7 linked regions of the Homo sapiens genome follow. The protein of the gene in region 7 purifies or fractionates together with the protein of the main gene of each other region. This does not show direct contact. Each region holds a gene or a part of one and is shown on either strand. Other genes may lie near its edges.

The links.
Region 1: the proteins of NOM1 (region 7) and RNF220 purify together in Homo sapiens (affinity purification with mass spectrometry; one large-scale study listed by BioGRID and IntAct). This does not show direct contact.
Region 2: the proteins of NOM1 (region 7) and RNF10 purify together in Homo sapiens (co-immunoprecipitation; one large-scale study listed by IntAct). This does not show direct contact.
Region 3: the proteins of NOM1 (region 7) and CACTIN purify together in Homo sapiens (affinity purification with mass spectrometry; one large-scale study listed by BioGRID and IntAct). This does not show direct contact.
Region 4: the proteins of NOM1 (region 7) and LRRTM3 purify together in Homo sapiens (co-immunoprecipitation; one large-scale study listed by IntAct). This does not show direct contact.
Region 5: the proteins of NOM1 (region 7) and LRRTM4 purify together in Homo sapiens (co-immunoprecipitation; one large-scale study listed by IntAct). This does not show direct contact.
Region 6: the proteins of NOM1 (region 7) and LIN28B purify together in Homo sapiens (co-immunoprecipitation; one large-scale study listed by IntAct). This does not show direct contact.

Annotation. Positions count from the first base shown.
Region 1 is NC_000001.11:44,404,073-44,408,054, reverse strand, and holds the start of RNF220 (E3 ubiquitin-protein ligase RNF220), read right to left. Parts: upstream 2,801-3,982; 5' UTR 2,525-2,800; intron 1,264-2,524; exon of another isoform or gene 974-1,263; intron 621-973; exon of another isoform or gene 541-620; intron 1-540. UniProt on the Homo sapiens protein: E3 ubiquitin-protein ligase that promotes the ubiquitination and proteasomal degradation of SIN3B. Independently of its E3 ligase activity, acts as a CTNNB1 stabilizer through USP7-mediated deubiquitination of CTNNB1 promoting Wnt signaling.
Region 2 is NC_000012.12:120,540,856-120,544,355, reverse strand, and holds part of RNF10 (E3 ubiquitin-protein ligase RNF10), read right to left. Parts: intron 1-3,500. UniProt on the Homo sapiens protein: E3 ubiquitin-protein ligase that catalyzes monoubiquitination of 40S ribosomal proteins RPS2/us5 and RPS3/us3 in response to ribosome stalling.
Region 3 is NC_000019.10:3,610,145-3,613,467, forward strand, and holds the end of CACTIN (splicing factor Cactin), read right to left. Parts: coding exon 3,320-3,323; exon of another isoform or gene 3,222-3,319; coding exon 2,914-3,221; exon of another isoform or gene 2,641-2,913; intron 2,270-2,640; coding exon 1,779-2,269; 3' UTR 501-1,778; downstream 1-500. UniProt on the Homo sapiens protein: Plays a role in pre-mRNA splicing by facilitating excision of a subset of introns. Required for the splicing of CDCA5/Sororin, a regulator of sister chromatid cohesion. Involved in the regulation of innate immune response.
Region 4 is NC_000010.11:67,099,544-67,102,051, reverse strand, and holds the end of LRRTM3 (leucine-rich repeat transmembrane neuronal protein 3 precursor), read right to left. Parts: 3' UTR 501-2,508; downstream 1-500. UniProt on the Homo sapiens protein: Exhibits a limited synaptogenic activity in vitro, restricted to excitatory presynaptic differentiation. May play a role in the development and maintenance of the vertebrate nervous system.
Region 5 is NC_000002.12:77,519,577-77,523,875, reverse strand, and holds the start of LRRTM4 (leucine-rich repeat transmembrane neuronal protein 4 isoform a precursor), read left to right. Parts: upstream 1-1,499; 5' UTR 1,500-1,760; coding exon of another isoform or gene 1,761-1,767; intron 1,768-2,057; 5' UTR 2,058-2,204; coding exon 2,205-2,208; intron 2,209-4,011; coding exon 4,012-4,299. UniProt on the Homo sapiens protein: May play a role in the development and maintenance of the vertebrate nervous system. Exhibits strong synaptogenic activity, restricted to excitatory presynaptic differentiation.
Region 6 is NC_000006.12:105,072,107-105,075,606, reverse strand, and holds part of LIN28B (protein lin-28 homolog B), read right to left. Parts: intron 1-3,500. UniProt on the Homo sapiens protein: Suppressor of microRNA (miRNA) biogenesis, including that of let-7 and possibly of miR107, miR-143 and miR-200c.
Region 7 is NC_000007.14:156,948,545-156,952,511, reverse strand, and holds the start of NOM1 (nucleolar MIF4G domain-containing protein 1), read right to left. Parts: upstream 2,801-3,967; 5' UTR 2,775-2,800; coding exon 1,788-2,774; intron 42-1,787; coding exon of another isoform or gene 39-41; coding exon 1-38. UniProt on the Homo sapiens protein: Plays a role in targeting PPP1CA to the nucleolus.

The sequences.
Region 1 (3,982 bases), on a different chromosome or scaffold from region 7:
TGTATATAGAATACTCTGGGTCCCAACAACCTCCGCACGAAACAATCTGCGCCCAACTTTGGGCAACCAAAGCGCCAGTCCAGGAAGAACCGACACGTGCAAGGGCCCCTGGTCCGCAGCCGCGCGGGGCCCGCGGGGCAGGGGCTCAGAGCTGCCAGCCTTCGACCAAAGTCCAAGGACCTCCAGCCCCCGAGCAGCCCCGCCCCGGGGGTCACCCGGGTCCCGCCGCCGCGCGCACCACCGCTTCAGCGGGCAGCCGCGGACTCCTCCACTCCCGCTTCTCCTGCAAATACGGACCGGCGCGGGGCTGCCGGGCCCTTCCAGCTCCTGGACTGCGGATGCGCAGTGCGGGAGGGAGGGTTCTGCGGCCCGCACCGCGGCCGTCCGGCCGCCGCACACCGCGCGGCTCGCAGAACAGGTGTGTGTCCCCGCTCGCTCCGCGCCCGGCCCCGGCCCTGTCGGCCACCAGCGGCGCGACGCGGCGCCGCCCCGTCCTCGGCCTTCCCCAGCCTTGCCTCGAAGCGCAGCAAGCGAACTCACGCCACTTTTGCCGGGTCTCTGCGGGCCAGGAGGGATCGGCACGGAAGACGCCAGCACCGCTCTTCCTCGACGCTCTTTCTGCCTTTCCCCCCTCTGCTCATTCCCCTTTGCAGGAAGAGCCCGCGAGACGGAAAGAGGAGGCCAGGCAAGGCAAAGCCCCCCTGCCCACTCTGCTCCCCCCAGTCCCCTCGCTGCTTCCTCACTGCCGCCCTTTTTTTTCTTTATTTTTCCTTTCTCTCCCCTTTGCCCCTCAAGCCGAGTCCGGAGCGGAGGCGAGAGGCAAGATGTGGCTGCTGGGCGTCGTGGGCAGCGAGTGCGGTGCTCTCCCCCTCGGCGGCTCCCGGGCCAGTGGGCCGGCGCAGACCCCAGACGACCCGGGCCGGCCAGGTAGGGCTGTGCCCCCACACCTATGGCCCGGGCCCCATGCACCCACCCAGTGCGACGCGCGCCTGGCTCAGGGCCGGAACACGGGCTCTCCGCTGGAGCTGCATCCACGACCCGAGAATGCAGGGTGTGCTTAACGGGAAGCGAGAGCTTTCCCCCTGCCTCCTGGCTGCCCTAGTCCCCGCTACTTCGGGACTCCTGCGCGCCCTCGCCAGCTGGGGTCGACCTGGGCCGCGAGCTCTCGGAGAGGCTCCTGGACTGGGGGATGAACCGGGCATCCCCTCGGATGGCCTCACCACCGTGGGCGGCCTCGCCCGGGGGGCCACACGGAAGCTCTCCGCCCAAGTTTGTTGTGCCCTGGAAGAAAAGGCTTTCTCTTACAAAGCACAAAGGCGAAACGCCCAGGCCGAGCCCTGAAAAGCCCCGGGTTGGGGGGCGGGGGTGGGGTGGGGGAGGCCGGAGGCTCCGGAGTGCGGTGGCGGGGCTGGGTTCCGGGCAGAGAAGGTCGCTCGGCCCGGGCTGACAAGCGCGGCGGCAGTGGCCGCAGGACCGCAGCGACCGGCGTGCTCACTGAAAAGTTTTGTTCTTAAGTCAGAAGAGAAATTGTTACTCAGTTTAAGGCAGGTCTAAGATAAAAATAAAACTACAAGTAGAGTAGTCAAGTAGCCCTCGTCTCCACGATCGTCCTCCCGCCTTGCTCAGTAGAACCGCTGGGAGAGGGGGTCCCGACCCCGAAAATCCCGGGAGATCCCACGTGTCGGGCTACTCTACGGCCAGGCCGGTCCAGCCCAGAGGAGTGGGGAGTTTACCGGTGGCGTTTAGAACGGTCCGCCTCTATGCTAGCACCTGCCTCCTTCCTGCCCGCAGAGGATCCATCCATCCTACCCCACCTCCCTCCCTCCACACCCTTCACACCCGCCCCCGCTAGGAAAAAGTCAGCCGAGCACCCGGGGTCCAGGGCTAAACAGCCACTCCCCGGGTATCCCGCGGAGCCGGCTGTGTGTGGGGTGGAGGCTGTCGGGGTAGTTTCTCATTCGGCTCGCCCCTTCTCCATCCGCCCGCCGCCTCGGGCTCCCCACTGAGTACCACCCAGCCCTGGCCTCGCCGGAAATCAACGCGGGGTACATAGGGGAGCCCGGAAATCACCGGGGGGTGCACCAGAGAGCCCGGCGAGAAGGCATTCTCGATATCGACCCGAACAAAGTGGGAATGGGGCTTATTAAGAGACGGAGAAAAGAAGTCCTGCTCCCTTCCCTTGCAGTGCCCTCACCCTCCCAACTTGTCCAATTCCCGCGTCTGGTCCCTCCCCCTTGCACCTCCCCCCCTCCCCAAATAAAACACATTAAGGAAAACTCAAGACGGAAAGTTTGAGCGAGGCAGCGCACGGAGCGCGCAGGGCGCCGATGCCGAGAGGCTCCGTCGCGATGATCCAAGACGCGCCAGTCCGAGTCCCAGTCCCTGCCCCCGTCCAGAGGGAACCGCCCGAATCCCTAGGAAACGGACCCGGAAAGTTAGCCAGGTTCCTGAACAAGCCGGCCGCCCTCGCACCCACCCCTCTTGGGTACGCACACACGTCCACACCCCTTTCTGATCTCCATACTTGCCGTGGAAATTCCTTGGGAGAACGGTCGCACTTTTCAGGACACGGAGGGAAGCAGGCGGAGAGTGTGGTGCATGAAAAGTCCCGGGTTCGCAGAGCCGGCGGAGGCAGCGGCGGCGGCGGCGGCGGCAGCGGCAGCAGCAGCAGCAGCAGTAGGCGGCTGGCCCCGGGTTTGTGTTCGCGAGCTGCCTGGGATTGCATGTACAGATCAAGAGACTCAGTTGGCGTGAGAGAAGGAGCAGTGCTGCCTCTCAGCGCTGGATCTAATCAGTGAATGAGCCTCCACTCTCCCAGGGACTCGGAGACACACACACGCGCGCACACACACACGCACGCACACATTCTCTCACACTCACACACATACAGGCACTCTGAGCACTGAATACATTAGGGCACTAAGGGACTCTGGGAAATGAAGTCCAGACCCAGGGCACTCCTGGAGAACAGACCTGCTGGCCCTCACCAAAGAGCTTGGAAGTCTTGGGGTCGCGAGCCATTGTGAACTAAAGAGAGCGTTGGCTTTTGTTTACATCCCTCCTCCCCCACCCGCAAAGGTCTCAGTGAATGGTTTCGTGCTTGTTGTTCTTCCTTTCCTGAACCAAAAGGGACCAAGAGTAAATGGGCAAAGCTTGAAGACTGACATCCACTGCTGCTTAAATGACCCCCAAATCCTGGGTCCCTCAAAATCTCTGTCTTTTCCCAGAAAAATCTTACCTGCTGCTTTGTTCCTGGAATGCTTCTCTGGGTCTTTGACTATAATAATAAATAATAAATGAATATTAATAAAACTGTAACTTTTGGAGGAGGTGAAGGCCTAGTATAGCATCCAGATGTGAGAATAAAATTTTTTATTGGTGTTTTATTGATGTTTATATTACAGTTCATTTCAGATCATTTCATATCATCCTATAATTCATCAAACACAAAGATAAACAGGGGAAATGGATAGAGAACTAACATTCCTGAGTGCTTTCTAGGAGCCCGGTTATGAGACTAAATGCCTTTACATAATTTCATTTACTCCTAAGATTAATTCTGGAGATAATAATATTACCACTAGTTTATAGAAGAGGAAACTGGGGTTGAAAGGGTTTTGTAATTTGCCCATGAAAACGTGGTTAACAAGTCTTGGATAGCAGGTAGTTCTAGTTCTGAAAGCAAAGTTCAACCAAAATCAAATCCTGGTTTAAGAAGTCATTCCTGGCCGGGCGCGGTGGCTCACGCCTGCAATGCCAACACTTTGGGAGGCCGAGGCGGGCGGAACAAGAGGTCAGGAGTTCAAGACCAGCCTGACAAACATGGTGAAACCCTGTCTCTACTAAAAATACAAAAAGTAGCCGGGCGTGGTGGCATGCGCCTGTAATCCCAGCTACTCAGGAGGCCAAGGCAGGAGAATCGCTTGAACCCGGGAGGCGGAAGTTGCAGTGAGCCGAGATCACACCATTGCACTCCAGCCTG
Region 2 (3,500 bases), on a different chromosome or scaffold from region 7:
TAGAGTTGGGGTCTCACTTTGTTACCCTGATTGGTTTCCAACTCCTGGACTCAAGCAATCCTGCCTCGGCCTTCCAAACTGTTAGGATTAAAGGCATGAACCACCATGCCTGGTTTATCTTTTTTTTGTTTTTAACAGTCTCACTCTATTGCCCAGGCTGGAGTGCAGTGGCGCAATCTCGGCTCACTGCAACCTCTACCTCCCGGGTTCCAGCAATTCTCCTGCCTTGGCCTCCCAAGTAGCTAGGATTACAGGCATGAGCCACCACGCCTGGCTAATTCTGTATTTTTAGTAGAGATGGAGTTTCGCCACATTGGCCAGGCTGGTCTCGACCTCCTGACCTCAAGTGATCCACTCACCTCGGCCTCCCAAAGTACTGGGATTACAGGCATGAGCCACCATGCCCAGCATGTTTTATTCCCCCAGGGTGGAAAGCAGTGGTGCCATCATAGCACACTGCAGCCTCAACCTCAGCTTAGCATCTTTCCAACTCAGCCTCCCAGCTAGGACTGCAGGTGTGCACCACCACACCCAGCTAATTTTTAAATTTATTTTGAGACAGGATCTTACTTTTGTCACCCAGGCTGGAGTGCAGTGGCATGATCTCGGCTTACTGCAGCCTCCAACTCCTGGGTTCAAGCAATCCTCCTGCCTCAGCCCCCCAAGTAGCTGGGACTCCAGGCATATACACCATTCTTGGCTTAATTTATATTTTTGATATAGACGGGGTTTTGCCATGTTGCCCAGATGGGTCTCAAACTCCTGAGCTCAAGCGATCCACCAGCCTCAGCCTCCCAAAGTGCTGGGATTACAGGCGTGAGCCATCAGGCCCGACCTAATTTTTAAATTTTTTTGTGCAGACGGGGGTCTCACTATGTTGCCCAGGCTGGTCTCAAACTCCTGGGCTCAGGCGATCCTCCAGGCTCAGGTGATCTTCCCACCTCAGCCTCCCAAAGTGCTGGGATTATAAGCATGAGCCATGGGGTCTGGCCCCACTTTTATCTTATTACAATGATTCTCAATCTTGCCAGTTCATAGGAATCACACAGATGAGCTTTTACGGAATTCCTATGCTCAGGCCTCACCCTCTAAGATTCTGATATAACTATACTAAAGTACCTGTCTGCAGACCTGTAATATTATCTGAGTAATTTTTTTTAAACTTAGAAAAAATTATTTCTTGGTAAGTACAATCACCAGCTTTTTATAGCAGGCTAAATAAATTCAAGGTTAAACAATGCCTCAGAAAGAAGAAAATGTAAGTTAATAAATCAGAGACCAAATTTTGAAAGCAACCACTTCACGCCCATAGTCTGTCAACCTCACTGTATAAATGAGATGTCATTCTCTCCAAACCTGACCACCTAAAACCTGGGAGTCAATCTAAACCATGTGAAATGGCAGCAATGTAAACAGAACAGTCACAGAAACAGGCTAGGTTCACTCCTACCAGTTACCCTTAAATCCTGCTTACGGACAGTGACCCTTACCTTAGTTACAATTTAAGGCCAGGCATGGTGGCTCCCTGTAATCCCAGCACTTTGGGAGGCCAAGGCAGGCAGATCACATGAGGCCAGAAGTTCGAGACCAGCCTGGCCAACATGGTGAAGCCCCATCTTTACTAGAAATACAAACATTAGCCAGGTGTGGTGCCACACGCCTGTAATCCCAGCTACTTGGGAGGCTAAGGCATGAGAATCATTTGAACCCGGGAGGCAGAGGTTGCAGTGAGCTGAAATCACGCCACTGCACTCCAGCCTGGGCAGCAGAGTGAGACTCTGTCTCAAAAAACAAATAAATAAAGTTAGAACTTAAAAACTAAACTTTTACCTATTACTTCAGTTAGCAACAGTTAGTGTCAAACATGGCACTAGTAGTAACAATTAGAAAGCAAAGTTTCAGCGCTGGACTTGGTGGCTCATGCCGGTTGTCTCAACACTTTGGGAAGCCAAAGCAAGAGGATCACTTGAGTCCACGAGTTTGCGACCAGCCTGGGCAACATAGCAAGACCCCATCTCTACAAAAAATTTAAAAATTAGCCCAATGTGGTGGCACACACCTGCAGTCCTAGCTGAGAGGCTGAGTTGGAAGGATTGCTTAAGCCAAGGTTGAGGCTGCGGTGTGCTATGATGGCACCACTGCTCTCCACCCTGGGCTACAGAGTGAGCCTCTGTCTCAAAAAAAGAAAAAGGCCAGGCACGGTGGCTCACGCCTGTAATCCCAGCACTTTGGGATGCTGAGGCGGGTGGATCACGAGGTCAGGAGATCAAGACCATCCTGGCTAACATGGTGAAACCCTGTCTCTACTAAAAATACAAAAAATTAACCAGGCGTGGTGGCGGGAGCCTGTAGTCCCAGCTACTCAGGAGGCTGAGGCAGGAGAACGGTGTGAACCTGGGAGGCGGGGCTTGCAGTGAGCCAAGATTGCACCACTGCACTCCAGCCTGGGAGACACAGTGAGACTCCATCTCAAAAAAAAAAAGAAAAAGATAAACCAGGCACAGTGGTTCAAGAGTTCAAGGATCTCTTAAGCCAAGGAGTTCAAGGTTTCAGTCAGTTATGTTTGCACCACTGCATGCCAGCCTAAGTGACAGAGCGAGAGCTTGTCTCTAAAAAAAAAAAAGCCAGGCACGATGGCTCATGCTTGTAATCCCAGCACTTTGGGAGGCCAAGGCAGGTGGATCACGAAGTCAGGAGATAGAGACCATCCTGGCTAACATGGTGAAACCCCATCTCTACTAAAAATACAAAAAATTAGCCAGGCTTGGTGGCGGGCGCCTGTAGTCCCAGCTGCTCGGGAGGCTGAGGCAGGAGAATGGCGTGAACCCGGGAGGCGGGGCTAGCAGTGAGCGGAGATCGTGCCACTGCATTCCAGTCTGGGCGACAGAGTGAGACTCCGTCTCAAAAAAAAAAAAAAAGGAAAACTCAGGGGATGCAGAACCCCAGCTAACTCAGCCACATTCTCTTGCTTTGCTTTCCTTAACTCCATTTCACATCACCTCAAGCAAAGGAGATTCTACGAGGATAGGTATATAAAGAAAACACATATCCTCCAACCTCATTATCCAAGACTGTTTCAGATGATCCTGGACCCTACCTGTTTGACCCTAACTGCTGCTTTCAAGATGCACCTCACGGTTTGCATAGATTTAGGTAAAGCCAGATTCTACATGGCAAGGGCTTATTAAGAAAGTAAAATGGCCAGACACGGTGGCTCATGCCTATAATCCCAATGCTTTGGGAGGCCGAGGCGGGCGGATCACCTGAGGTCGGGAGTTCGAGACCAGCCTGACCAACATGGAGAAACCCCGTCTCTACTAAAAATACAAAAAATTAGCTGGGCATGGTGGCGCATGCCTGTAATCCCAGCTACTCCGGGGGCTGAGGCAGGAGAATAGCTTGAACCCGGGAGGTGGAGGTTGCGGCAAGGCCGAGACTGCACCACTACACTCCAGCCTGGGCAACAAGAGCAAAACTCTGTCTCAAAAAAAAAAAAAAAA
Region 3 (3,323 bases), on a different chromosome or scaffold from region 7:
GGGCTGGGAGGTGACCAGTGCCCCAGGGGAGTGCAGGATCTGCCTTGCACCTCTGCCTACTGCAGTGAGGACATTTGGGGAGGCTCATCCTGGGCACTGAAGCACATTGGGCAGCATCCCTGGCCTCCACTCACTCCACGCCAGGAGCAGCCCCAAGGTGGGACCACCACGAATGCCCCCAGGCATGGCCAAGCGCTGCCCCCATGAGAGCCTGGGCCCAGGCCAGCAGCTGTGTCCACCCTTGTACCCTCCCTCCTGTCGTCTGGGAAATGGACTGTCACCCCCACTGTGGGAGGCAAGGCAGAGGGGTGGGGGGCAAAGACAGATCCGGGCACTAACACAGCTCCCAAGGGACCACCGGGCCCCAGTTGGGTGCCGTGTTGTTTCCCAGGCTCTTCCCTTGGGACAAATGCGCTGTGTCACAAATGCCAGCAGCAACTAGGGCAGCGGGTGTGGGGCGTCGGACACGTTACACTCTCTGCATTTCTGCAAACCTAAGATTATTCTAAAATACAACGTTTATTAAAAAAACATGCGATCTTGCCAATAGGCCAATTCCATGAGAACAAAAGATTTTTTTTCCCACCTACAAGTCTTTTTAGAGAAACAAACGGAACTATTTCCAGATGAGGCGGGGTGTCTGGGAGGGGCTGTGGGTGGTCTGGGGCTGGTGACTGGTGAGGTTGGGTGGCCCTCTGGGGGTCCGGGAGGCACTTTCCGTTTTGCTTCTGTTGGAGATGTTCCCGTCGGATGCTGAAGAACAAGCCTGCCGGCTGGGCCACTCCGACCTGGGCTGTGGCACCCGTGTGGCCCTCGGCCCTCCTGGCCTGAGAAAGGGGAGTGAGAAGGAGCCACTGTCCTGATATGGGCAAAACTCGGGGTCACTGGTCTCATGCTCCAAGGCCCCGTGAGCAGGCCAGGTGGGGGGATCCCTGGGGGAAGCCCCTCACCCTTCTCCAACCCCCAGCCTTCGGGGAGCCCCTGCCCTCCAGGCCCTGTGCTCAGAGGTGGGGGGAGGACGGCTCAGTGACTTTTGGTTCCCACGACCTTGACAGAGACAGGGACCTCGACGCATCCTCCATACCCGCTGCGGGGAAATGGACCCCACCAGCCAGCACGGGGTGAGTTGGGGGCCAGTCCCTGCAGAGTGTGGGTGTCCACAGAGGGTCTCTTCTGCAGTGGCGGATCGGGCGCCAGCAGGGTCCCGGCCTCAGTGCTGCCTGTGCGGGCGAGGGTGGCCTGTGGGCAGGGCTGGAGCTGCCCCACAGCCGCGGGCTCTGCCTCACGCCCAGTGGGTGCCCCGTGATGTGGCAGGGCTGGCCTTGAGTTTCCTGCTTCTCACGAGCCTGGCACCGCCAAGCCCAGGCCCCTCTGGCCCATCTCCACAACACCCTGTGTGGCCGCCACTTGGGGCAGGCCCTGTGGGCCCCACCCAGCCTGGCTGAGGGGCGGTGGAGAGTGTCCGCCTGGACGGTGAGGTCAGCTGGCGGCTGCTGGCCACCCTCGTGCTCGAAAGATGCCCCTAGCGCCCCCTCCGTTGCATCAGGACCCTAGGCCAGCCTGTCCCAGTGTCTCCTCAGCTCACCATGGCAGGCTCAATGGTGACCCCCCTTTTATATAGGAGGAAACTGAGGCCTGGCGAAAGAAAGATGCGGCCTGAGGTGGGACGTGAACCCGCGGCCCTGCAGCCCAGACAGCGGCCCCGGAGTGACCACCAGCTTCACCGAAGCCCCTTTACTGTGCCCCCGAGGACACCTGCCTGCCGTTCCCCAGGGCCGTCACCGCCGATAGCGGTAGCGCTTGAAGTGAAACCACAGCTGGAAGATGCCGTTGGCAAACTGGCAGCGGAAGCCGTGGCGGTGCGAGTATTCCCACTCGCGGTTGACGATCTTGAAAGCGATGTCCTCGTAGGGCGGCCCCGCGTGGAAGCGCAGGATGGCGAAATCCTTGTTGTCGGCGCAGGCCTCCAGGAAGTACTCGGGCGTGGAGCGCTTGTCGATGAGGTCGGGGTAGAAGATGTTGAACTTGTATCCCTGCACGATCTTGGGCGGTGGGTTGTCAAAGTCGTAGTGCGTCTGGTTGTACTTGTTCCACTCGAAGCCCGTGTGCACGCGGTTGAAGAAGCGCGGCTTGCGTGGCCGGTACTTGTCGGCCCACAGGTAGGCCTTGCCGGTGAGTGGCATCTCCACGCTGAACTGCGCCTCGTCCTGGCCCATGCCCTCCTTGGCCCGCCGGAAGAAGATGTCCTCGGCGCTCTCGCTGGCGTCTCCTGCGGGCGGGACGGCGTTCACCCGGGCCTCGGCCTCCCCCTGGGTCCTGGCCTCCCTCCTAGCCTCTCTGGCAGGGGCGGCCGCTGGTGCCTCCCGCAAAAGGAAAACAGGCTGGGGCGAGCTAAGGCACATGGGGAGGGGACAGGGCCTGGGCGACCCGGAGACCCACACCATCCGCCCCGAGCCCCGGACCTTGGTCTTCATGTCTATCGTCCTCCTGGGTGGGGACCAAGCGCAGCGCGCTTCCCCGCCGAGCGACAGGAGAACCTGGTGGTTAGGGCCTGGCTGCGGGATCCAGCCCCACGCATGACCCCCGAGGGGGTCCTGGCCCAGGGGTTTTCTGAAGCCAGTATTTTCTCCTCTGTCTTAGGACGGAGGCTGCCCAGGGAGTGCTCGGACAGCGGCCGGTAAAAGCTTCCACCACCTGTGGCCCCAAGGCCAGTGGGCCAGCAAGCCCAGGATGAATGAAGGAACGCCCCAGTGCGCGTGCAGGTGACGGAATGCACGCTCAGAGACCCGGGGGAGAAGCAGCAAGCAGCTCCCCACTGACGCCAGCGGCTTCGGCCGGGAAATGAGGCTGGAGAAGCCCCGCCCCCAGCTCGCCCCACTGGCCCCACCCCCTGGCCTCCAGCCCCGCCCTTACCCGTGACCTGGAGCTGCTGGCGCGAGAGCTGCAGGCGCTGCAGGTCCTCATCCGGTTCCAGCACGTGCGCGTCCAGTGGCAGCTCGTGCGCCGTGAGCAGCCGCGGGCTGTACCTGCCGGCGTCGTAGTCGTCCAGGCTCTGCTGGATCAGGTCCTCCTCCATGAGCACCGCCTCGCCCTCGCCCTCGCCCTCACCGTCCCCGTCGCCGTCGCCCTCTGTCGGGGTCGCGCCGTCCACCTCGGCCTCCGCGGGGCCGCCCTCCGAGGAGGGCCCGGGCGGGGTGGGCGCCGCGTCCTCAGGCTCCAGGCTGGGAGGAGAGAGCGTTGGAGGCGCGGAGGCTGCCCACGGCCCCTCCATCCTGCTCCGCGTCTGCATCGGCGTCCCCGGGGTGCCGGCCGGGCCTACCTGC
Region 4 (2,508 bases), on a different chromosome or scaffold from region 7:
CTGTGCCAATATAAGATGTTATTATATCTATTCTGGAAAATTTTCACCTTTTCTCCTGAGGCCAAATACCTGCCAGTCCCATAACTTCTTCTTTCGCATGCTCTGACATACCCAGAACATCTGCATTTCTTTTATACAGTTGAATAACAACAATTCACATCAGGTATTGGTTTTCATGAATTCAATTTCTTATTTTGAGTGTTTAGTTTGAGAGATGATATCTGTCTTCTAGTCAGGAACAATCAAAAACAAATATATTTTTACTCTCATATACAATAGTTTTATTTTAGAAAATTTTTTTTTCAAAAAGATTTTACTATTTCTAAGCAGTCAATGGAGTCAGAGAGATCTGAGTTCAAAATAGGATTATGTGATTAGTCTTGAGTGTTAAATTTGGGAATGTTTTCTTTCCTTGTAAAAATGTAATTTGTATTAATCTGTATAGTTTTGTGGTTTTCCAAAACATTCAGGAGGGACTAGAAATAGAGACTTGACAAAAATGAGTTGATCAGTAAAATATATTATTTGCAAGTTAGCATATGTTTTAGGTTCTATACATCAATTTGGATAAATTATATTTTATTTTTCTTATAAGAAAATGGAGAAAATTGTTCTCTATTATTACAAGTAAAAAAAATTTCATGGTTTAAGAAGAAATCTTGCCAAAAGAAAAAAAGAAAAAGAATTTTATGTAAGTCTTCCCAATTAGCTCCGAATTGAACATGTGTTCAGTTGACAAAGTGTTGAACATGTGTTCAACCCTGTACTATGGATCTCTTTTATAATTATGCAGTCTCAATTTAGAAGGTCTTTGGTTTTTTCCTTGGGGTTTCTTTCCTTGTGCTTCCTTGATTTTATGTCTGTACCTCGGGGCCTACATGCATCCACATCTTGGGAGCATCTGTTCTGCACATTCACAAACGAACTTGTATGTTAAGAAATATGTGACTTGTTAAACTTTTTGAACAGAGTTTTAATGTGAGAGCCCAGAGTAGAACACAGAAATAATTCAGTTAGCTAATATTTTACAGATGGAGAATTGAATTAAAATAGGGATTACTAAACAACATGTCAAATATATATAGATATATATTCTTTCATTCTATCCATTATCTCTGGAAGTTCTCTTGCTCTGATCAGAGAAAGAAATCTTTTAGTACAGTGGAAAGACTAACAGCCTGTAAATTTTGAGAATAATTCAACTGCACCAATTATTGGCCCTGTGTTTTGGGGTAAGAGCTCAATTTCTTTGAGATTAATGTGTCTTCATAGGGTTGTTATGAAGACAAAATGAGATAATTTATGTAAAATGTGGTTTGTGAACTTCAAAACACTGCATAACTTTATGGTTTGCTGCAGCTGCTGGCTGTTATTGTAACCATGCTGGGTGAAACTTTCCATTTTTCAGCTCCAAACATAAGTAAACATTTCAGTTGTTTAAATCGGTGAGGAATAGACAGGAAGGGAGACATAGGAATGGGGGTTAGAAGGAGGAAATGGGAGATTATCAAATGCTGGAAAAGATAGGTTAGAAATGCAAGTTTTAGACAAAAACTGAAATAAATTGGAAATATGTGATAAAGATTCCAGACACAGTCTTTCAGATTGTCACCACCCTCACCCTTAACCTGGACATGGCAAAATAAAAATTAAGCAAAAATAATAATAATCATCATCCAGCATTTTTTTTCTTGCTAAAGACCCTTTTGGTTGAATTTAAAGATGAGAAGTCTCAAAATTCCTGGCGTATTTGGTGTAGCTTAGGGCCTTGGTTGCACAGAGCTGTGGTTCCAAGGTGATTGCTTCTATTTATAGTCGTTCACTTTAGATGAATTTAAAATATTTAAGAAAGAAAGTGGTTTCCTTCAGGAAATCAAGGGCATACACTTGTAAGACTCCTTGGAACCTTAACATTTCTAAAAATCATTATCAATTTGAATGTGTCTAGAAATAGGTTTATTAGTAGATAAACCTATTTATTAACAAATATGTTAATTTGTGCTTGTTTACACAAATTAATTCTTCTTTTTCTATCTTTGCAAGGATAACTTCTAATGAGAAAACTTGCAAATGACATTTTGGTTTACATAATAAATAAAATTTTGCATTTGATTTTAGACTCACGAATCATAGCTTTATAACCCTTTATAAATTTGCTAACGACGTAAAGCCAAATTTCAATGTAGAGAATTAAGAATAAGAATAATACATTGCAAGGAAATTAGAAAATGGAAAACATAAAGATTAAAATTAGATTTAAAATGACAAAAATTTTTGAAGAGCAAATAATTTATGCAAAATATGTTACAAAATCTGGGATGCTAAATAGTTGACACAAGTACTGTGTTTGACATTTAGTTTCATTTGAATTAGTAATAGAATTTGCTTCTTCCAACATTTACATCTTTTTTCTTTCTGACTTTATATATTTTCAACAAAAATTTGCTCCACAGTTTTTAAGTTCATTCTTCTTGAATCCGCTTTTACATTTGCTGTGACAAACCTGCA
Region 5 (4,299 bases), on a different chromosome or scaffold from region 7:
CTCATCCTCTACCATTGATATTTGGGTGGGTTTTGTGTTTCTATATTAAACTACACCACTATGAACAAATCGTATGTGTACATTTATATTGATATACTTATTTTCAGCAACCACAATAATCCTGCCTCTTTTGGCGTGCATTTGCATTTTAATAGGTATTAAGCCTTAAGCCAAAGGCACACATTTCTAAGATAGAAATTCAAGTATCAGTTAGTGGAAAAGGAATATATTTGGGGGACATATTATTCCTTTCTGTTCCTCAAGAAATCTTAGTAATGAGACAATTGCCTGCAACTGCCTACTCATACATCTGAGTCAAATTATATGTGTTATTTATATGATAAGCCCCCTTAATTATTAATATTTTGGCAAACAATCTAAAACCAAGGCTCTTTCTAAAAATATCTATTTGCGATGATCCACAGCAATTCTAAATGCTTATGTGAAATTCATTTAAATTTCTCACGTCTGCTAAATTAGGTTAGCAGTCTTACCTAGCAGTCTCTCCCTGCATTACATTGATTCATTCTCCTGGATTATTCTAAAAATTGTTATCTGCCAGAGGATTATGGAATAAACTAGTAAAAATGAGGAAAAAATGGAGGTGATGCACTATGTTTTTCAACGTCTGTCCAAGCTTAAAGAAAGTGTGTAGGTCCTTTTAAATTATATATATATCAGGTGTTTTATCATGTCATCCCTTCTAATTCTGAGGATATTCTGCACATTTTAGAGTAATACCATGATAATGCAGAACTCAAGTGCTTTTGTTTTTCTGGAATTGCACATTACAATAAGTGATTTGCATAAGAAATGATTTGCATTCTAAATGTAGATGATTTAAGGATAATGGCTGCACTAAGAATGTCAAGCTAGAATTCTACTCTTATCTCTTAGTTACCTTCACATTTGGTAATATACTATAGATTATAACTGCTTTAAGACTAAAAATGTAAACTTTTAGAAAGTAGTGTTCTAGACTGTTCAATAAAATGCACAAAATTGTAAAATGCATTTTATGTCAAAGGTTGAGAATTTGAAAATCAGACTTAAACATGTTAAATGTAACCTGTTTAAAATTGATTAAAATTGCATTTTTCCCTTGAATAAGATTTCTTCCATAAGCGGTTAGTTTAAAACAATATAAATAAATAAAACAAACCAACAGCAACAGTGAATAAAACTTAAATTTCAACAATTTCTGTCATTTGCAAAAGATGATAAATCTCCAGTGACGTGCAGAAAAAACAAATTTCAGGTCATGGCAACTTTGAAAAACTATTAATTGCATAACATTTAGAGAAGCAGTATTTTACTTAATATTTGCTATAACTGAAAGGAACTCCTTGGCATAAACCTTTTAAATTATTGGAGAGAAAAAAATAGTGATTCTGTGCCTTTAATTTCCCTTTCTGAGCAAGGGAAGGCTGCACACCACTGACAGGCTCACTTGTTCCCGTCTTTAATGTGCAATCTGTTTTCTCCAGCGGAGGGCACTCAGTGTATCACAAACTCAAGCATTAGCACCAACAAGCTCTGAGCATCATCAGTCTCTGGAAAGCCTTCTGAATTAGACAAGGGCTGCCTCCCAGCACAGCTACAAAACACTTTAAACCTGACCAGCTAAATGGATAAACCTAGCCTGCATAGCTTTTAAACTGGGGTCTCATACAGCACAGGAGGCCTACTTGCTTCAAGAACTGAAAATCCAGAGGATGAATTGCTTTATCTGGGAATGGCAAAAGCCAGCACAATAAGGAATGCCAGGTATTCTGAAGATTTTCTTTTTTTCCTCTCTTTTTACAGAGAAGTTGGTTACCTCCGAGATGGGCTGTAGCTCTTTTGCACAGATTGCCAATTACTGCTGATGGGTCTCTGGTGAATTACACAATGGTCCTCAGAGCCTAGAGGCCCTCCCCCATCCCTATCCCCCCAACGGCTTCCTTTTCCCTGCCCCCACAACCATCCCACCCTGTGCTGATTTTTTATATATATATATATATGTATATATATATATGTATTTTTTTTTTTTTTTTTTGCCTGTCCTCTCGGGGAAGTTTGTATGGGGCTACTAGCTCACATGCGGGATCAGAATGGTGTGAATGACAGCCGCACTGTGTCATGAAGGTGGTGGTGGTTTCCGCACAAGAGACCAAATAAGAAGAAAGCTGAGAGAGGGGGGAAACGTTTTTGGATGACAAAGGATGGGTAAGTGAACTTTTGTTGTTTCCTTCTGAGCAAAGCTGATCCTCTTGGCTTCCTATCCTCAGTCGTGGCATTAGCAGATAAAAGACGGGGAAACAGGCAAAGAGCAGCAGCCTTTGAGTTTGCCAGTTGATTCACTATAGTTGCTATTATATTTTTAGATCATTTTCCTTTTTGCAGTGTTTTTTTTTTAATCTATAAATGCACAACACGAACTTAAACAGACTCTAGAGAAATATCTTTAAGACTGTTTCTACTGTCTGCGTATCCACAGCTTGGGAATTCAGAAGGAGATAAATACTGTGTTTGCTTCTATTTCTTGATAATATTAACGAGGCTTGTGTTTCTGGTAGCTGTCAGGATGACTATTAACACTTTGCTGCGTGTATGTAGGGGTGGGGTCCTTACTTTATCAGAGGTTGCACAAGGGCTTGTTTTATCTTTGAAGCTGGATCCTGAACACAGCTTCCGAATTTCCAGCAGTCATTTGCCAGTCTTATTTTTTCGAGTGTGACTGGCTTTTTTCCCCCCCTTTCTCCTGTCTGGGAGAGCTGGAATGTATTTCAATGAGTCTGTAGCTGGCAAGAGGACAGAGAGCAAGATCGGGTTTTAAATTAAAAAGAAAAAAAAGAAAAACTTAACTGTTTGAGAAGAAGGATGGGTTTTAGATTAGGGATTTGGTTGATTGCCTCTTGGTTAAAAATTTAAAAATTTAAGAAAAAAAAAGAAACTGCAACACATGGTAGTTGTTTCTTTTTTTTTCTCTCCATTAAGAAATAATAAATCTACTGTTGACGGAGGAAAGAAGTCCCTTAACATGCAATGACTTGGAAATGCAGTGTAAGTGCCAATAGATTGTAACTTTGCAGGCTTTCTGAAGTTAATGGAGATAGGGGAGAAAAAAGTCAGTGAGAAATGTGAAGAGATCAGGGTGATGTAGAGAAAAATAGTAGTTGGCTGCTTCTTTCCTTGTTTATCCTTCGAATTTGCAAAAACAACTCTAAAATAATGGCAAAGTGATACTACACAATATTATTTTGCTTTTTAGGCAAATAATACGAATTTTGATAGTCTTAACTTTGGAGTGTTCTCTGTTATGAGTATTTAGATGTCTTAGCTCCTGTATCGTTGGGCAGGGAGCCACAGTATGCAATAATCTATGCTTATTAACAACTTGAGAGCACCTCGTACCGTTATTAGTCTTCATCCAATGCTTCATTGGCTGCCTATACTAGTCTCAATGCTGTTTTTTCAGAGCTCACATATTGCGATCCTATTATGCAATAAGTACACAATTTCAGGCAGGGCAAACTTGGGTTACCTTGACAGCTTACTGAAGCTCTTTTGCCAAATCACAGCCTGTTTGCTCAACTGGGAAACACGTACAGGTACCAGGTTTACTAAGTCACATTTTTGCCCTTACCAGAGCACATAGTACACTTCCTTTTGGTACTGTTGTTCAATACAGTGGTTAGCCAAATATTATTGTTACTAAAATGTCAGCATTCAGTGGTGAGAAAGGCTCTGTGCTTTTCAATGTTGAAATAAGTAGGAACTCCTGAAACTCAAAAAGGCTTTTCTTAATTCTATGGGACTGTGGTGATTTGAAGATCAAGGAAGAAAAAGTGAAACCTAAGCAGCAAACATGCAACACTGAAGAAAATAATGCTCGAAATGTTAATGCATTTTCCTTAAATCAACTGTCCCATTCCTACACTAGAGGAAATGCCCCTGTTGTTGGTAAACCGACGGTGATTTATTTTAATAGCTTCACAATGTGCATCTGTCTTTTTTTTAATATCGTAGGTTTCCATTTAATTACGCAGCTGAAAGGCATGAGTGTGGTGCTGGTGCTACTTCCTACACTGCTGCTTGTTATGCTCACGGGTGCTCAGAGAGCTTGCCCAAAGAACTGCAGATGTGATGGCAAAATTGTGTACTGTGAGTCTCATGCTTTCGCAGATATCCCTGAGAACATTTCTGGAGGGTCACAAGGCTTATCATTAAGGTTCAACAGCATTCAGAAGCTCAAATCCAATCAGTTTGCCGGCCTTAACCAGCTTATATGGCTTTATCTTGACCATAATTACATTA
Region 6 (3,500 bases), on a different chromosome or scaffold from region 7:
TTAATTCACCCCCTTGGCTTTCCTGATATGTGCTATCATTAGGCCAGACTTTCTTCCACATTGAAAAGATTTGCATTTAGTGTCTATGTGCTTAGCCTTAAAAGGGGGAGGAGTGGTATTTATATTCTCTTCTATTTAATCATTCAGTGTCAATCACTCTTACTAAGAGTACAGATCACTCTCCATTATGAAACCCCTTCCTTCCCAAGGGACTGACACCAAAATAGAAATGTTCAGCTACCTTGCAGCTCACAAATTATACCACAACTATATACTCCATACAAGCTATACATGATTTTAGTCCCCTTTGTTCACCCTCCACACTGTTCCACATCAGTTTGCCTTTGTAGTTGGAATGAATTTTACATTGTGATGTGAGCATAAAAATATCATGTGTGTCCATTTTTAGCTATATGCTTAAGAAATATAAGGACATAGTCTCACACAAAAGACCATACAAAGAAAACTATACTCATACTTTATTATATATTCCCATAGTCCAACATAAAAAATAAAATTATTCATGCTAAGTACTTTATTAAATGCTGAACCAATGGCACAAAGGATATTTTCTCATGCATTACAAATAAGATAAAATAGGCCAAGTGCAGTGGCTCATGCCTGTAATCCCAGCACTTCTGGGAGGCTGAGGCGGACAGATCACTTGAGGTCAGGAGTTTGAGACCAGCCTGGCCAACATGGCAAAACCCTGTCTCTACTAAAAATACAAAAAATTAGCCAGGTGTGGCGGGGCACACCTGTAGTTCCAGCTACTCAGGAGGCTGGGGCAGGAGAATTGCTTGATCCAGGGAGGCAGAGGCTGCAGTGAGCCAAGATTGATTCACTGCATTCCAGCCTGGGCAACAGGGCTAGACTCTGTTTTAACAAACAAAGATAAAATAAACAAAAATGTTCAGTTTAATCTTAGACGGTTATCAAGTTCTTCATAAAATCATTTTATAAATACTGTAATTCTAATGAGCTAGCATATTCTACAAGTATTATTTCTTATTTAAGGAGCGTTTAAAGATAGAAGATAATTAACAATCAAATCAAAGTCAACATTTTTGAGACACTATCAAAATAAGATTTATAATTTCAGATTTTAAGGCCTGACGCGGTGGCTCACGCCTGTAATCCCAGCACTTTGGGAGGCCGAGGTGGGCAGATCACGAGGTCAGGAGATCGAGACCATCTTGGCTAACATGGTGAAACCCTGTCTCTGCTAAAAATAACAAAAAATTAGCCGGGCATGGTGGCGGGGGCCTGTAGTCCCAGCTACTTGGGAGGCTGAGGCAGGAGAATGGCGTGAACCCAGGAGGCGGAGTTTGCAGTGAGCTGAGATTGCACCACTGCACTCCAGCCTGGGCGACAGAGCGAGACTCTGTCTCAAAAAAAAGAAAAGATTTTAAATGAAAGAATGGCAACAATGGATAGAATAGAGGCACTTATGATGGTTAAATAAATAAAAACAAATTGTTTAGACCTTTAGAACTATTTAATTATATTCTGAAGTAATTACATGAGTTTTTAAAAATCAAGTCCAAACACCTACACTAGTTAATAAGTTAATCAAAACATACCCAAATTTCTGAGGATTTCATCAAAAAATGAAAACTAATTCAGAAATCAGAATTTAGATCTGCTATGACCATTAAAAATGTTTGCATTTTTTGATCCAAACAACTGAATAAGCAGATTATATTTTCAAATGATATCAGCAATAATGGAGCTGAGCACAGCGGACAACCACTAGGTTAAAATATAGACATTAATTTTTAAATAATATTCCAATGGTGTAAATGAAAATATTCATCAGTTATATATTCCCTCTCGATCCTGAGAGTGATGAAAAAAATTGGGAAGAGGGGCGATACCACAGAGGAAGATCCAGATTTGCTTGTCTAAAAGTATAATGGAAAAAAATGTATCTTAGGATTCTTCACAGTACTTGAACATTTTAAGTTAATAAGAATTTATATGTAAACTCAAATCCACATTCTGAGGGTCTGATGGGGGCATTAAGGATAATTTTGACAGTGATCTGTAAGCTTCTGAAGGGGAAGGAATTGTTGAAAGATAGTACGTAAAGCAGTATCAGGGACAGAGAAAAGAGTAGAGAAAGAAGTGCAAGCTTTGGGCAGGAAGAAGGTACGAATACAGAAAAGGAATTTCATAAAAATTCCTGGGAAAAACGGACTAAAAAAAGGATTAATAAAGTTTCCAAATGGGAGGCAGAGGGGCTAAAGAAAAGTCACAGATTGAAAAAAATTACAGGAACTAAACTGAAGGAAAAATAACTGATTCTTTGAAGAGATCATTTTAAACCTTGGTACAGTCCAACTAAAATCCAGAAATGATACTAATAACATTCCTCAGCTCTATTATTTTTTATTCTAGTATGTTTTAATACTTGTTATTTAATTAAAATTGTGTGCCAATCAACTGAACACATGGAAGTGCTGGATCACAGCCAGCTGGTGGTGGGGAGGTGGGTGGGCAGAAAGGTTATTAGAGAACCACAGAGAGCTGACAAGCAAAGGATCCAGAGCATATTGATGGAAGCAATCTGCCTACCCTGTACACCTCCTGAAGGTAAGAGGGGCAGATCCTGGAACCAACCTTCCTAAAGAAGGCCCCATTTTGTTCTGACTGATTCTACACAATCTAAATAAACATTTGGGTATTGTTTACTCACTCCACAGGACTAGCCCCAAAATACCAAGAGAGGAGTTAGGAAACTTTGATGAGTCACAGAACTAGTAAGTCTCTTTAATAGTGTACATGTCTTCTGACCTCTATCAACCTATACTTTAATGAATTAGTTTCTTTTATTTCATTCTTCTCATAACCAAATTCATAAGATTGTAAGCCAGTTAAACAATAACAATTTTAGTAAAGTTAATTTTTATTTAAGTATGTTTTCCATACTTAAATTTTTATATATTCTAAGTACAGTGGTAAAAACACTGAGTTTTCAAAAATAGTTAGTTGGTGATACTGATGATTTATGTTCTTTTAAAAAGTTTCCTAGATAATAAATACACATTTAACACCAGAAAAGTTTTCATTTGGATCTTCTGGAATATAGAAGCCAGCATCATGCCCCTCTGTTACCTTAATCATGCTAAAAACAAAATATTCTATATACAGAAGGACTAAACATACTTTTACTTTTAAGAGAATTAAAATGGTAATAACAGAAATAATAAACAGGTTCAATTCACTGAGAGCTTACTAAATTCTAGACACTGTGCTAAAGGTTTTTAATGTGTTATATAATTTAATCCACCCCCAAAGCCTATGAATTGGGAACTACAATATCTAAATTGTATTGATGAAGAAATTTAGAGATTATCTAGAAAGGAATTTTAATTGAAAGCAATTAAATTTCACTTCCATTTTGATTACATAAAAATGTTATACCCAACAATATTGATGTAATTTTATTATATGTAAGTCTAAAATATCTAGGATCTTGAATTTAAAACACTAATACA
Region 7 (3,967 bases):
TGAGGTGGGATGTACTTTTCACCACTTCCACAAAGACTCTGCTTGAAAAGAGAAATAAATTACAAAAAATTTACACTGACCAAATCCTGTGTTTTTTCTTTGCCATATGTGTATTTAAATATTAAACTTCCAAGAACTGGTGGAAGCTGCTACTGATCATTGCTGCTTAAATACATCAGATTTATTGAGTGCTTAGTATATGGGTAAACATTCCACTCACCAGGCTGTGCCTGTCACTATTCCCATTAATGCTATTAATAATACATTTCACCATCTCGTTTTCCCCTGTGTAGCTCTTCAGACCCAGCTGTGCACCTCTGGTATCTGCTCAACTCCAACAGAGCCCTATCTACTGCGCTTTTGCTCGGCCTTAACTTACTGCAGGCACAGTAGCATACAAGAACCTAAATTAAACAAACCGCTAATTTTGGAGGGAAAGTGTCCTAAAAACAATTTCAAACTTGTTTAAAAGTAATATCTAAGTTTATATGATAAAAATCAAAACCGGCCGGGCACGGTGGCTCATGTCGGTAATCCCAGCACTTTGGGACGCTGAGGCGGGCGGATCACGAGGTCAGGAGATCAAGACCATCCTGGCTAACACAGTGAAACCCCATCTCTACTGAAAATACAAAAAATTAGCCGGGCATGGTGGTGGGCGCCTGTAGTCCCAGCTACTTGGGAGATGAGGCAGGAGAATGGCATGAACCTGGGAGGCGGAGCTTGCAGTGGGCGGAGACTGCACCACTCTACTCCAGCCTAGACGACAGTGCAAGACTCAGTCTCAAAAAAAAAAAATCAAAACCAACTCACTGCTATTTCCTAAATTATCAAGGGGGGTGGTGGTGTTTGCAAATCATTAAGGACACAAACATTTGCAAGGCACGATCCTCACTGCTAGGTAGTTTAAACCTGGTTCAATAAAGAATATTTGTATACATAGAAGCTGAATATTTACATACATAGAACTAGTGCGATGTGGGGAGAAGGAAATGCAGGCAATTCCACACAGCTGCCTCCAACCATGAGCTACATGCAAAGGAACGCTGAGATAAAATATGCAAGATGACAGCCCATGAATGCCTTGATTGCTACGTCCTAGATTCTGAACTTTTTTTTTTCTTTGAAACAGAGTCTGGCTCTCTCGCCCAGGCTAGAGTGCAGTAGCGCGATCTCGGCTCAGTGCAACCTCTGCCTCCCTGGTTCAAGCCTCAGCTTCCCAAGTAGCTGGGATTACAGGCGCCTGCCACCACGCCCGGCTGTTTTTTGTATTTTTAGTAATGACGGGGTTTCACCACGTTAGCCAGGCTGGTCTCAAACACCTGACCTCAAATGATCTGCCCCGCCTCAGCCTTTATCTTTAATTCAATGTTGGACTTTATCTAAGGGAGTGCTGTAAATTAGCTTCGAGTTTTAGAAAATTCACTCTAAAAGTCGGGCACGGCAGATGTCCTCGGATACTCGAAAGAGGCCTTAACAGATGAGGTAGGGTTAACAGGTTTAGAGACCTGGGCTGGTAAACACAGAATGAAGATGCTGCACTGTGGAAATGGCCCTTAAGTCCCCGGGATAAAAATGTCTCTATATTGCTTTTCTCCTAAACTTTACATTATGAAAATTTAAAAACATGAAAGAAGACCGAATAGAGTAACGTACTCGATTTACTCACATTCAGCTGAAACCATTATCAAGACACCAAGTCTGTGTCATTTCTGCCTCACGCCCCATTCCCTGTCCCGTTATTTTGAAGGAAATCCCAGAGGGCCTAGAGAGTGTTCACACGATACCTTATCCGTTATGTCACCGTCCTCCGAGGAATTTTCACTCTTTTCTTCATCTTCTGCAAAACGGACTCTCTTCCCCCTCCTTTTCTCCTGCGCTCCCTTTTCCTTTTCTTCCCCCTGTTCCTCTTCTGTATCCTCGTCGTCGTCCTCGCTCTGCGCTTCTGCTTCCTGCGCCTTCTTTTCCTTTTCTACGTCTCCCTCCTCCTCCTCCTCACTTTCGTCCTGGGAGTCACTCTCTAAGTCACTTTCGGGGAGTGTCTGTCCGGCATCTTCCTCCTCCTCACCACTGCTGTCGTACAAGCCGCTATTTTTCCCAGACTCCAGGGCTCCCAGAATATAGTCAAGACCGTCGCGTGCAAAGCTCAGCGGCACGGAGCTGCTGCCGTCCTTCTTTTTGCGCTTGTTCAAACCGAGGCAACGCTCCAGCTTTCGGATCTCTCGGTCCTCCTCCTCGTTCGCCGCTAAAAGCGCCCGTTTCCGGGCAGCGGCGGTGGCGGCTGCGGAGGGTCTGGTCTTTGCGGTGGCGGCCGTGGCCTTGGCCTTGACCCGGGACGGCCGCGGCTTCCTGGGAGGCGAGGGGTCCCGACTAGGGGCTGGGCGGGCGCGCTCCTCCGTGTCCTGCCGGTGACCGCTGGCTTCTTCGGCTCCGCTTCGGCCTCCCAGGCCGGGACCCTGTTCGGGGCCCGCCGTCCTCTGCAGCCGGCGTGCTTTCCGCAGGTGCCGCTTCTCCTTCCTCAGTTCCTTACGGCTTTTTCTCCCTCCCGGGCGAAAGCTCACCGGGGCGCCGCGCCCCTCGCAACCCCCGGGAGCCTCGCCTTCCGAAGTCGCGTGCACGAACTCCTCCACCGCTAGCTTCAGCCTCTTCAGGGCCTTCTCCCCACCGCCAGCAGGACCGCGGCGCGGCCCGCGCCCGCCTCTGCGCTTCATGCGGACCACGCGTCCCTGGGAGCCGCCCGGGCCGGCCTCTCCCGCGCTCCTGGACGCCGCCATCTTTCGAAACGCGTGGACGCACGACTTCCGGCCGAGGCGGGACTTCCGGGGAAGAGGCGGCTGCGCGGGGCGGGCGGGCGGCGCCCCCTGCTGGCCGGAGGGCGACAGCGTGCAGAGCTGCGCGGAGCCGGGTGCGGGGGCAGCCGGGCAGGTGGCGCCCGGGGCAGGCGCGCCCGCGGGTGGGCGCCGCGTGGACGTCAGGCTCGCGATGAGCATGGAGGTGCCTTCACATTTAAAAGGGAAATCCGGCCGGGCGCGGTGGCTCACGCCTGTAATCCCAGCACTTTGGGAGGCCGAGACGGGTGGATCACCTGAAGTCAGGAGTTCGAGACCAGCCTGGCCAACCTGGTGAAACCCACCCACCCCCCTACAAAAATTAGCTGAGCGTGGGGGCACGCGCCTGTAATCCCAGCTACTCGGAGGCTGAGGCAGGAGAATCGCTTGAACCACGGAGGCGGAGGTTGCAGTGAGCCGAAATGGCGCCATTGCACTCCAGCCTGGGCGACAGAGCGAGACTCCAAAGGGAAATCCTCGCGTATGATGGAGGGGAGACTCCGCGCGGGTCGGCGCGGTGCCGGAGGTTGGCGGCGGCGACGACGCTGGGATGCGCGGGCCCCAGGTTCGTGTCCGCCCAGGACCCAGGAATGCGACCTTATTTGGAAATAGGGCCTTTGCAGATGTGGTCGAGAGGAGCCCTCGTGGGTTAGGACTGGCCCCAGAGCCAGCGTTCTCCTGAGAAGCAGGCTCTGGATACGGACCAGGGAGACGCCTGTGGCCCCCAGGCGGCCGAGGACCCCTGAGGAGCCGGCCCTGCCCAGGCTGGGTTTGGACGCTGGGCCCCGAGGGCAGAGCGTTTGAGGTTCCTCTTTACTGGGTAACTTGAACCGGGAAGCGAACGCAGAGGCCGCGCAGTTTGCGTCTGGATTTTTGGGAAGCCCGGAGGCGCAGGAGCAGCCTCGCCTAGCAGTGAGCTGGGGGAAGACGGGGCTGCTGCTGTGGGGTTCTCGGCCTGACCAGGGGCCGCTTCTCTTCCCGGACAGCTTCAGAAGCTTCATTTCCACAGAGTTCCCACCCTTGACTTAATTTAATTTAATTTAATTTTTTTTCTTTTTTTTTTCTTGAGACCGAGTCTCACTCTGTTGCCCAGGCCGGAGTGCAATGGCGGACCAAAGTGCTGGGATTACAGGCAAGCC